4 separate regions of the Homo sapiens genome follow, and all the other regions are reported to be linked to region 1. Evidence: microRNA targets listed by miRTarBase, many of them from high-throughput screens and not tested one by one. Region 1 holds a microRNA gene; each other region holds the end of a gene's coding sequence.
What was found. The annotated mature microRNA hsa-miR-4802-3p reads UACAUGGAUGGAAACCUUCAAGC and lies in region 1 at 1,488-1,510, opposite strand. An mRNA with a match to its seed (bases 2 to 7 or 8) in the 3' UTR can be bound and repressed. Matches are read on the target gene's strand: a 7mer-m8 pairs with bases 2 to 8, a 7mer-A1 pairs with bases 2 to 7 and ends in A, and an 8mer does both.

Region 2: miRTarBase lists LZIC as a target of hsa-miR-4802-3p. Seed matches in the 3' UTR shown: 7mer-m8 at 2,763-2,769.
Region 3: miRTarBase lists CREBL2 as a target of hsa-miR-4802-3p. Seed matches in the 3' UTR shown: 8mer at 2,279-2,286.
Region 4: the mRNA of ALDH1A3 is a reported target of hsa-miR-4802-3p. Seed matches in the 3' UTR shown: 7mer-A1 at 1,256-1,262.

What each region holds. Positions count from the first base shown.
Region 1 is chr4:40,500,564-40,503,731 of GRCh38, forward strand. MIR4802 (microRNA 4802) reads right to left here and starts at 1,556; the gene lies at 1,477-1,556. All of the region lies in intron 2 of RBM47 (RNA binding motif protein 47), which reads right to left.
Region 2 is chr1:9,927,730-9,930,897 of GRCh38, reverse strand. LZIC (leucine zipper and CTNNBIP1 domain containing) reads left to right here. Exons shown (of 8, transcript NM_032368.5): 8 at 441-3,168. The coding sequence ends at 499. Among named protein-coding and RNA genes, the nearest start is that of LZIC, 14 kb to the left of the region's middle. RefSeq lists enhancers at 1-85, 2,575-3,084.
Region 3 is chr12:12,641,463-12,644,630 of GRCh38, reverse strand. CREBL2 (cAMP responsive element binding protein like 2) reads right to left here. Exons shown (of 4, transcript NM_001310.4): 4 at 1-2,637. The coding sequence ends at 2,633. Among named protein-coding and RNA genes, the nearest start is that of CREBL2, 31 kb to the right of the region's middle. RefSeq lists an enhancer at 120-1,319.
Region 4 is chr15:100,914,236-100,917,403 of GRCh38, reverse strand. ALDH1A3 (aldehyde dehydrogenase 1 family member A3) reads right to left here. Exons shown (of 13, transcript NM_000693.4): 13 at 778-2,703. The coding sequence ends at 2,631. All of the region lies in intron 1 of ALDH1A3-AS1 (ALDH1A3 antisense RNA 1), which reads left to right. Among named protein-coding and RNA genes, the nearest start is that of ALDH1A3-AS1, 3.5 kb to the left of the region's middle.

The DNA of each region.
Region 1 (3,168 bases):
CTGTGCCTGGGTGATAAAGCAAGACCCTATCTCCAAATATATATATATATAAAACCAACAAAAGTTTCATCTACTTGACCCTAAACAACTTGCCTTAATTTTGTACTTAATGAATTGGTCATAGGTATAGCCTTGCAGGGATAACAACATAGTACATAAACTTCTGAATTTTACCAAATGAATTAGAAGGTAGTTTAAGTCATTTTAAAAAATAATTTAGCAACTTTTCTTATGCTTTCTCAATACATTTAAAACCTGATTGACTTACCAGATGTTCCTTAACCACAATTTTTTCAGTAACAAATCTATCACAGAAAACACTGACCATGGTCGTGACATTCTTTGGTTTTCTATCACGTCTCTTACTCAGGTTTCACTTGTTTCTGAATTTCAAATTCTAAGGTTTGAAAAAATATCTGCAAGTCAATATTTAAACTGGCCACTGGCAATGATTATGTTCTTCATTAAGTTCCTCAATGTTAAAAAAAAAAACAAAACAGCAATATAAAACAAGCGATCCCGGGTGACTGAAGTTTTAACTCAGAGTCCAAATGCTGCATAGAAGAGCAGCTGCTGGCTTCATTTATCGTGACGAGTAAAATAAAACATAGGAAAACAGTCGCAGTTTTAATTTAAGCATAATCTAAACTTCAACTTGATCCTTGCAATGTAGCATCATACCTTATGGAGAAACATGAAGACAAAGGTTGTAATAAAATTTGGATGATAAAAAAAGTTGGATGACAAAGAAGATGTGGAAAGCAGAAAGAGGATTGGTATGCAAAACCCATTTAGGTTCTGCTGCTCACAGTTCTAACCTCAGAGGGTGGAGAGATACACAGCCCATACTTCACATAGTCAGATGCTGAAAACAAGCATCTAGGCCAGTGCCATCCAACAGAGCTTTCTGTAATGATGGAAACACTCTGCGTCTGCACCGTCTAATACAAAAGCCACTGATACGCATGTGCCACAAAGTCCTTGGCATGTGTGTAGTGCAAACAAGGAATTATTTCATTTAATTTTAAACAAATTTAAATAACTGCACTGCATGCAGCTATGGGCTACCATATTGGACAACACATGTCTGTGTTCACAGGGTAGCTCCTGGACAGAAGAATGAGAGATTTGGGGCAGAGTTAGATCAGTAAGTCTTAGAAATGCTGCACCCACTCTGGTGGAGAAGCTAATCTAACTAATGCCTTTTCCATTGCAATGGTGAGCAGAAGCTTCCAATACACTTTAATACACTATTAGAAATGTGTGATCAACTTTTCTCAAGAGTCAACAGATGCTCAGATAAGAGTGAAATAAAGCTCAGAAACTCAGAAAATAGTGGCCCTATTTTCAGTCTTTTAGTTCTTCTTCTCCAGAGGCAGAATTCCCTTTCTGATGCTGACATTAATTACCCACTCAACACCACCACAAGCCCCACAGCGAGGCCCTCAAATGCACACATCTTCTTCCACCTGTCTCCTGCTTGGCCTGCTTGAAGGTTTCCATCCATGTAGACTTGAACACTAACATGGTCTAGAACCTCCATACAAGCCAGTCAGCTCAATAGAATGAATTTACAGAGGCCAAGCTTGAGCATTTTGTAACTGTTTCTGACATATGTCTAAAGCAGGTTGGACTGCCTCACTTCTTGGATGAGAAGGGTGGGTACGTCACATTGGACAAATCACCTGTTATATTGTTTTCATGTTGACACATTTCCCACAGCAAATTTGTTTGATGTGTCCTTGTTATTCTGTTCAAAAAATGGAGTCCAGAACGTCATTTGATGAATATAGCCTGGTCTGAATTGAAGGGAAGTCAAGCATGAAGGAGGAAGTGGACTGAACTCCCTGAATGCTGCTGAGAAATGCTTCCCCAGCTAAGACAGTGTTTTTCCCATCTCTCTGGTAAGGAGGGGTGAGAAGAGGTGAGGAAGAGAGGCCAATGAGTGCTCGTGAATCAGTAAGACTCCAACGACACAGAACTTGAGAACAGTTGAATTTGCTGGGTGCAGTGGCTCAGGCCTGTAATCCCAGCATTTTGGGAAGCTGAGGCAGGAAGATTGCTTGAGCCCAGGAGTTCAAGACCAGCCTGGGCAACATGGGGAAACGCCATCTTTACAAAAAAATTTAAAAGTCAGCCAGGTGTGGTGACATGCACCTGTAGCTCCAGCTATTCAGGAGGTTGAGGCAGGAAGATCACTTGAGCCCAGGAGGTTGAGGCTGCAGTGAGCAGTAATCATATTGCTGTACTCCAGCCTGGGTTGAGAGAGCAAAACCCTGTCCGAAAAAAAAGACGGCTGGGCGTGGTGGCTCATGCCTACGATCCCAGCACTTTGGGAGGCCAAGGCAGGATGATTGCTTGAGGCTAGGAGTTCAAGACCATCCTCGTCAACATAGTGTAACATTGTACAACCCTGTCTGTACAAAAAAAAAAAAAAAAAAGAATGGAAAAAGAAAACAGTTGAATTTGTTAAGCCTGGACAGACAGAGGACAGTGTTACATCACAGACTCAGAAACAGTGACTAAAGTCTGACATTTCTATCTTCCCTCCTCCTTCACTTCCTGTCTTTGAAACAAGCACTACAAAGACATGAAATCAGAACCTAAAACTGAGAAGAAAGAAAAACTGTCACAGGAGTATGATGAGTCTGCATTAGGCAAAGGACTCTCCTGACAAGGTGGCCTCAAGGTGGAAGGAGGCTGGGTAGATGCTTTTGGAGGTGCTGATGGCCATTAGTAGGTGGTGGGCATTGGGAAGAGTAGGTGTACTTCACATCATGGATGAGGGGATTATTCATGAGAGGTGATTTGCAGGTTTGCCTCTAAGGGAGGACAAGAGTGAAAGAGGAGGAGTGGGTACCAGCAATGCCAGTCCTGGACGTTCTGAAAAGATGCAGAGGATTCCAGTTTGAGAAGTGCTACTAGCGGTGTCCACTGGAAGGTCAAAAAGGTGAAGGTGAAGGGCAGCAGAGACAGTGACTGTGGTTACCCCTCACTGCTGCCCCTCACCTTGGACAGTGTTTACTGTCATTGTCTTGTAGATTTGCCAGCAGAAGGCTTTTAATTATTTCAGTTATTTTTAGAAATAATATGTATTATATGCTGCTTCTCATTATATAAGAAACTCATGGAAAGCATGGAAGAGCCTAAGAGGGGGGAGAGAAGAAT
Region 2 (3,168 bases), not on the chromosome of region 1:
AACACAAAAATTGGCTGGGCATGGTGGCACGTGCCTGTAATCCCAGCTACTAGGGAGGCTGAGGCAAGGATAATTGCTTGAACCCAGGAGGTGGAAGTTGCAGTGAGCCGAGATCGCACCACTGCACTCCAGCCTGGGCGACAAGAGCGAAACTCCATCTCAAAAAAATAAATAAATAAATAAATTAAATTTTACATATTATATTTCATAGCTAGAATAAGGATTTATAACTAATAAGTCCCCCTTTGTAGCTGGATTGTTTGTGCAGAGGGAAGGAAATTGGGATGGCAATGGGAACGTGTAGGGGTTAATACACTGATAATGGAGGCTAATTATATTTTCTGTTTTAATATCTATATGATAGATTTTTTCCCACTTTACCAGGAATTGCAACTGCACTTGAAATAATCTTTTTGTTTATTATGTGTCTTTTTTCTTAGGCTCTGGAGACAAAATTCTTGCTCTGGCAAGTTTTGAGGTTGAAAAAACAAAAAAATGACATGGTGCAGAAGCTTGTAACATTGATCACATTCTTAATGTAAATGGTGTCTTTCTTCTGGGGTTTTCAGTTATTGCAAAGAAATGAAGAGATTCTGGAAATGCATCAATAACCTAAGAAAAAGCGACATAAAAATATACTTATGGCTTGTGTTTATGCTCTTCATCATTGTGCGTTGTGTGCGGTTACCTGCTTGAGTGATCCTGAACTTGTTGCGACAGAGGGACTCACTGGACTCTGTTCGTTATGATTTGTCTGTTTAAGAGAGAAAACAAAGTGGACTTGATTTTTATTAAGGCTGTTTGTTTTTAAGTGTTGATAGTGAACGAAAAGATGTGAAGTAATGATATTTTTCTGCTTACAACTTATCCCCACTCATTGGAGTGAACAGTGACGCAAGCTCAATAGACTTCATAAGTGTTCATAGAATTTTACAATTCTGAGTGATCTTAGAAATCATTTCTGTTTTTACAAACAAGGAAACTGAGGTCCAGAAAGAGCAAGCGACTTTGCTTAAAGTCGCATCAGAGAGCTGAGGGTAAGACTCAGGTGTCCTGACTCCCAGTTTAGTATCTTTTGAATTTTATTTCTGTACCATTTAAAAAAAATAATTAACACTATTTGTGCAAGTCAGTGTTTTTGAAAATTCAGTGTCCCAATAAAAAGTGGACTGCACACTAAGGGACCATCCCCCAGCCTGTAAGCTGTCTGTATTAATGGGGCCCGTTGTATCTCGGAATTTTGAGGTTGGAACAATGGGAGCCCTGTTGAGCGTTTCCTAAAGTGACTTAGCCGCCTGCGTTGTTTGACCAGGGAAGCAACAGGAAATGGCAGCTAGAGGCCCTCCCTGTGCGTGACCTCTTGTCACACTCAGAGGGGGGTAACTGTCAGCTGTTATCTACTCTTCAGGTTTTGGAGAAACACAAAATAAGTTATGAGGAAAAGCAAATTTCTCTCCTGAGTATTTACATGTCTCTGTATGCTCAAATATGCAGATGTGTCCCTATGCGTGTATATTAGCTTATTTTTTAGGCTCTAGCCATTTTATATTCTTTCATGTGCTTCTCAATATTCTTTTTCTTTGCACTTTATACAAATTAAAAGCATTTTTAAAGCTTCTTCTGTACTGTAAACTACTAGGTGCTTTGCCAACCAGACAGATTAGAGGACCTCCGCTACACTGATGCCTTATTTGGAACTTAAAAGAGGTGAAATTCATATATCATAAAATTCACCATTTTAAAGTGTACCATTCGTTGGCAGAACATTTACAGTGGTGTGCAACCATCACTACTCTCTAGTTGCAGAACATTCTTATCACCCCCAAAGGAGGCCCTATACCTATTAAGCAGTTAGTCCCCATTCCCTTCTCCTCCGACTGCTAACAATAGCCACTAATCTGCACCCTGTCTCTGTGGATTTACCTATTCTGGATATTTCATATAAATGGAATCATATGATATGTGACCTTTTTATGTATCTGGCTTCTTTCACTTAGCATAATATTTTCTTTTCTTTTTTTTTTTTTTTTTGAGACAGAGTTTTACTCTTATTGCCCAGGCTGGAGTGCAATGGCGCAATCTCAACCTCCGCCTCCCAGGTTCAAGAGATTCTCCTGCCTCAGCTTCCCAAGTAGCTGGGATTACTAGTGTGTACCACCACGCCCAGCTAATTTTTGTACCTTTAGTATAGAGACAGGGTTTCACCATGTTGGCCCAGCTGGTCCTGAGCTGACCTCAGGTGATCCAACTGCCTCGGCCTCCCAAAGTGCTGGGATTATAGGTGTGAGCTACCACACCGGGACATCATCATATTTTCAAGTTTAACCAACATTATAGCATGTATCAGTACTTTATTCCTTTTTATGGCTAAATAATATTCCATTGTATGGATATCATATTTTGTTTATCCGGTATCTGTTGATGATTTGGGTTGTTTCCTTCTTTTGGCTATTGTGAATAATGCTTCAGTGAACATTTGTGTACAAATATTTGTTTGAATACCTGTTTTCAATTTTTTTGGGTGTACACCTAGGAATGGAATTGCTGCGTTTGTTGTTGTGTTGTTGTTGTTGTCGTTGTTTTTTGAGATGGAGTTTCACTCTGTTGCCCAGGCTGGAGTGCAATGGCGTGATCTCGGCTCACCACAACTTCTGCCTCCCAGGTTCAAGCGATTCTCCTGCCTCAGCCTCCCGAGTAGCTGGGATTAAGGCATGCGCCACCACACCTGGCTAATTTTGTGTTTTTAGTAGAGATGGGGTTTCTCCATGTTGGTCAGGCTGGTCTCGAACTCCTGACCTTAGGTGATCCACCCGCCTCAACCTCCCAGAGTGCTGGGATGATTACAGGCATGAGCCACCATACCCGGCCTGAGCCACCACACCCAGCCTACGTTTGTTTTTTAAGCCATAGAAGATTCTTCCCACCAGTCGGGCACAGTGGCTCACACCTGTAATCCCAGCACTTCAGGAGGCCAAGGCGGGCGGATCACAAGATCAGGAGCTCAAGACCAGCCTGGCCAACACAGTGAAACTCCATCTCTACAAAAATTAGCCAGGCATAGTGGCAGGTGCCTGTAGTCTCAGCTACTTGGGAGACTGAGGCAGGAGAATCACTTGAACCTGGGAGGCAGAGGTTTCGGTGAGCCGAGATGGCGCCACTGCACTCCAG
Region 3 (3,168 bases), not on the chromosome of region 1:
TTCAACTATATCCTAAAACTTGACCTGGTCAAACTTATTCCATATTATATTCAGTTGCTCTAATATACAGCAGGTTGATACTAAAATAATGACAGAATTTGGCTGGTCTAAACATACAAATATATTTTCCCCCTTTTCTTTCTTTGGGAAAATAAGAAAAAAAACATTACTCTGTTTACTCAGAAAGCAAGGAGAGCAGCACCTTCTCCTGGACTCCGTGACTGTCAGCCATCTTGTCATCACAAAAAGGTGAGGGGTGCCAGGATTTCACTATGCTGCTCCTTCACTGGAAAGGGAAGGAAATGCTCCAGCTGTTTTAATCAGTGACATTTATTAACATGCTTCAAAAGTGACCAAAGTGTCCAGCCAGCACAATAGCCGAGGCAATCAACGTTCTCTTAGTGTGTGATCTCCTCCAAAACACCAAATAAATAGGTTTAGGAATAACCTCAAATAAATTGTAATTTAACTTCGCCCAAAATTATACATCCTCTACTGCTCTTCCCTGCTCCTGTAAAGATACTAGCGGGAGGGGAGAAAGCTCAAATGACTCTGTAATTTAGAATTACAACCAGAGAAGAAATACTTCAAGCACAATAAAGACGTTCCATTGAAGAGCGACATTCATTCTGGAATGTTTGTTTTGAAAACAACTCTTCTGGGGGAATTCAAAAGGTACTGAACAAAGCAACATAAAGTAAGTTTTGGGTTGTTTTGCAAAATAAAAATATACAATTGAGTGGACCAGATGGCAAAAACATACCAATTACAATCTGAATGCTATATTTAAAACCCTTAAATTCTGAAGGCCTGAATATCAACAAACCTATTTATGTTTATGATCCTAAAAAGACATTAAATATTATTAAACCCCCAACTTCCAAAACATAGAGACCCAGCAAACTGGGCTAGTGGTATCTCAGTACACAGTCACACATGACTAGACTAGACTAGACTAGACTAGACTAGAGATCTGAGTTTGCAACCAAGTACAAGAGGTCTTTAGGAGCTCAGGCTAAGGGAGGCACTTTATTCAAATGCATGGCCTGAGAGAAGAGGGAAAGTACCTTGTAATCTTAAACTATGTGGTCCATCATATATTCTACCTCAAAGACAATCTAGACTACGGTATCTCCTCTTAAACTGCCAGTTCAGAACAAAATATACTTTATTTGGAAGCTAAATATTTGCTTCACTCAAGTGAAGAATAATTTAGCAGCGACAGAGAACACAACTCCTGTTTTAACCATGGGAAAGAGAAGAGAGAGTGGTAAGTATCTCGCTGGGGAAATCAAAAGATTTCTGGGTCTGTCTGGGTGTATCATATTATGAGCTTGATTCTTCAACCGTCACTCCATTTGGTAGTCAGGGAGAAAGTAAGTGTAGCTGCAAGGGGAAATGGAAAGAACTACCCTGCCCTTCTGCACCCCCAGCCAGGCCCACTAGCTGCGGTGCTGTGCACAACTCCAGTTCCAATGCTTCCCTCCACAGTGGAGGCATATCCAGGGCTGAACCAGATGCACGCCCACAGTGTGTTTCTGGCTCAGAGCCTGTCAGGAAATTCATGTCTGGGAAGAAACTAAGTGTTCTGGTGATGGCTACAGTCAGTAGATCTACCAGCAATTTGTCCCTTTTTTTGTTTCAGATTTTAAGGCAGAAACTCAATCTCAGCAGCTAATTTCATCCAATTTTCTTCAGAAACATTCTCCAATTTAGTTGAGTACGCAAGAAAAGTGTGTGAACATTCACTCCTGTCCTCCCCACATACATATATAGACATACAATAAGAAACATACATACATATATACCCTAGATTGTCAATGTATGCTGCTGAAATGCCTGAAAGGTTACTTTTCACTTAAAAATAAAATTTGATGAATTATTCTGCAAGTATGGATTTGGCCCTAGCAAATTTTTATAAATATAGTTTGAGAGGACAGCAACAAAGGTTTTAACTAGAAGCTGTCTTGAGGGTTTTCCTGATAGATATTGTTAATATGTATGTTATTTAAAACAGGCATATCCTTATGGATTATAAAAATAGAAATGTATATATTTGTTAATACATATTCACAGCTTATGCTGGAATGGCTCACAGGAGAAATCATGGTTCATGCAGAGAATAAACATTACTCAAGTAAATAAAAATAAGATTAGGTCCATAAAGGCTGAGAACTTATAGTCAGTAATCAGCTCATTTGGTTTCTCTTTGTAGGGCAATCAAAAACATGAAAGGTGGTGACACATAAAACACACACAGACATACAATTACATGAATTACATGGAAAGAATATAAATTAACCAATAAAGCAATGTGGAGTTAAGGTGCAAAAATACAATCTTCATCGATTTTCTCTACTCCTGTGTTTTCAAGCATCACAACATGTTAAATGTCATGGGTGGCAATACCAACCCAGACAGGTCTGAATGTTTGTAGATTTTCTAAGTGTTGAAAGTTAAAGCAAGATCCTTTGAGATCTACGATCACACATTTTGGTAGAAATTGCAGATTTACAGAGATGACTACTGAGCAGTAGGTAGTAAATGGAGCCAAGAAGTACACTCTTGCCCATCCATCTTCCATGGGAATCAGAATATTGGCTTCAATCACTGACTCATCTTTATATAATCTTCACCCTGAAAAATAAAAGTTACCAATGTAAGAATGTTTTTAGAGTCAATAAAGTTTGATTAATCTGTTTTAAGATGCATAAATTTTTTTTTTCAGTTTAGTATCTTCAGTAAGGCTAATTTTTAAAAATACAGACTAAAAAAAAGCTGATTTGGCTTTTTTCCATTAATTTAATTTAGATGAAGCCAAATGTTTTAATTTTTAAACATTTCAGTAGCTTTTGGGGTAGAAGTGGTTTTTGGTTACGTGGGTGAATTGTATAGTGGTGGAGTCTGATATTTTAGTGCACTTGTCAACCTAGATGAAGACAAATGTTATCTAATAAAAGTTATCAAAAAGCCGATTTCTTCAATTTTGTAAAAAATACTGAAAACATAAGAAGTTTGTTCTAGATGGGCGTGGTAGCTCACACCTGTAATCCTAGCACTTTGGGAGGCCAAGGCGGGTGAATTACCTGAAGTCAGGAGTTCAAGACCAGCCTGGCCAACATGGTGAAACCCTGTCTCTACTAAAAATACAAAAAATTAGCCGGGTGC
Region 4 (3,168 bases), not on the chromosome of region 1:
CATGTTCCGGGACACCAAATGAGGGAAAATATCCTTCTCCTACAGTTTCCTGCTCACATTTGGATTGAGAAATGGGATGTCTCTAAATAATGTGTCTAAATTCTCTTAACATAAGTGCATATGTTACGAGAGATCTGATCCCAGCCTCCCTTTTTTGTTAAAGTGGTGGTGCTTTGCCACCCATGTCAAAATGATCTGGGCTTTCCACATCAAATGCAAGGGATGAGCTTGGAGGACATACCCCAGTACCAGCAATGATCTTGAGCCAATGGCAGCGTCAGCTCACAACGGGGTGATTGAGGCTTCTTGGTTAGAAGCTTTAGAAACTTGAGGTCAGTAAAACCCAAATTGATCCTTTCTCTAGATCCTCTAGATTTCTCTAGAGGAAAAGGTGACAAAAACAGACACTTGTGCTCACCGTCAGGGGCACAATGCTGTCCGTCAATCCTCATGCAGTCCTCCCCACCATTTCGCACACTGACACCATCACTACTTTATGATAAAAGGAGACTCAGGCAGCTTAGATAACAGCTGAAACTCAGCCAGCTATGACATGGAACCTCTGAGGCCCAGCTCCTTGCCTGGTCAACCCCCAAGCCCACAGAAATGGGTTTCACACTCAGGCAAAGCACTGGGCCCGACTGACTGAGCAAATGTAATTTTATGCTTACATTATTGATCCTGCTTTAATATCAGCCATTTCGTACAGGTCTCAGAAAGAGAAAGGCCTGCCATCGAATTCAAATGACTTTGGTCTTTAAATGAAAAAGCACAATGTTTCTCAAATATCCAATTTTATTTTATCATTCTCGCATTGTGGGATGCGATCTGCAGCTAGGATCGGAATTCCCAGGCCTATAGATTTTTAAACCACACCACAGGGGTAAACCTTAAAAGAAGTGAAACCTAACACTATATATATTTCCATTTCTAAATACAGTATATTACAGAAGTTTAAATATACCACCTCTGTGTACTTACAACTATAAAAAGATACAATAACTCTACCAATTATAAATAATGTAGCATTTCATATTAAAGACATTATCGTACAATGGAAGAATAGGAACCCTCTAACGTATCACTATCAAGGTTAGTGTCTATATCTACTTGAGATAAAATACTGAAAATTCAGTGTATGAAGCCAAATCCTGATTTAACAAGTTATTGGTAGTATAAGTGATAAGTGTTAGCTGATGAAGGGAAGGCAAATGTGGTAATTTATATCTCTGACAAGGGTGATAGGCCCATTTTATACATGGTTTTCGTTATACACACACTGGTTCTGTTACGGGCCCTCATTTTATTATTGCCCTCCCCAACTTAATTTGCAAACTTAAGCACTACTTTCCCAATTAGGAAAGTACTAGTTAGTAACCATAAAAGTATCCGTCGGATAACACATTTGTTTTTGTTTTTGAAGCTATATGGGAACACTTTCAGTTTCCCAAGTTAAAACATGAAATTGCACATCATCATTTGGATCCCCAAAGAGGAAAAGAAAAATTCACAACCTGCCAGTGAAATACTCAGGCCACTTGGATGAAGACCGAGGTCCTCCATAGAATCCAGGTGTTATTTACTAACTAATCAGAAATTAATATCAAAATAGGACTTAAAAATAACAAGGCTGTGTTATTACAGCAGTCTTTCCAGTTGTGTACGCTTTACTAATCTAAATTGGGTAACAGAACTGGAGAAAAGGAAGACTACACAGACTTATCATAAGCTGTTAGTGAACGTGATAGAAATGCGTAATTTGTTAAAGCGAATTACAGCTCTGATTTGTCAAATGAGGAGGTGAATTATCCTAGGATTTGCTATGCTGTTGTGGCGTTAGAAGATTGGATCTTTAGCAGCAAAGGTAACCTCAACAATATTTTCTGCTTAAGAAAGTGCCTTGGTTAAGGTAGACCGTGATATCGTCTTTGACTAAGCTCTCTGGGCTATTGATTCTGTCATATTCCAAAGGCAGTATTGGTTTGAAGCCGAATCTCACGGTCAATGTCAACATGCAATCCACAAAGACCCTGGCGCCCTTCCACGGTATGCACTAACCAAAACTTTCTCACTGTGAAATCCTTTTTTTAAAAACAAGAAAACAAAAAACAAAAACCAAAAAACCTTACTGTGAATCCTTTCCCAAGGAATGGTCCCACCTTCACCTCGGAAAGAGGCGTGGCTTGCTCTGTAAGCAGGTCCACCCTGAGGAGACCGCTGGTGCAAGAGCCCTGCTTGCAGAACACACAGGGGGTTTTCCCACATTCTTACTGGAGTCAGATTCGGCAAAGCATTTCAAGCAACTGCTGGACACTTCAAATACCACTCCCTGTTAACAACGCCCTGAGTATCTCACTGTCTCCAGGATCTGGTTTAAAGGGAAACACAGAAATGGCCAACAGCTCCCTCCCCAGGCAGGACTGCGATTTCACAGACAACCTATAGGCATCCCCAGTCTGGTGAATAAACAGGAGAGTGAGAGGAAAACAGCAATCATTCAACTCCAGTAGATGTAAAGCCTCCAGAAGAATGTGTCCCGGGAAGGTCAGAAATGTCATTTTTTTCCTCCAGCACATTTCATCTGCCACATTCCGCCGTCCGATGTTTGAGGAAGGAGCCCCGCCTTTCCTTCAGGGGTTCTTGTCGCCAAGTTTGATGGTGACAGTTTTCACTTCTGTGTATTCGGCCAAAGCGTATTCACCTCTGTGATCACAGAAAAGAGGAAAATTCAAAATGGGTACATCCCTTAGCCATTGTGTAGAAACTGTTCTGAGGCTTCATCATTCCATCAGGCCGTTGGAGGCTTATGCAAAAGGTTAAAATGTGACGACCTCATGGAATAATAGCCAGGACTATAACAGCACTAGTAAGTGTCAGTAGCTGCATATGTGACTTAAATGTAAATATCAAGGTCTTCTTCTGTGTGATGCTTTTGAAATGGCCAGGACTAAGGGTTTCCCTTTAGAGAATGAAGGGGATTTTAAAAAAAGTAAAGAGGTGAATTCCCTGGGGTGGCAATAGAGAGCAAAACGAGAGAGCCTGGTGGACGGTGGGGTGTCTGTGAACGAGGGAGGGGCAGAAATTACACTGGGTTGATAACTTTTAGATGGCAATTGGGAGCTGCTTGAAGAGGAGACAGAAGAGGCAGAGGCCCAAAGCTATTGGCTG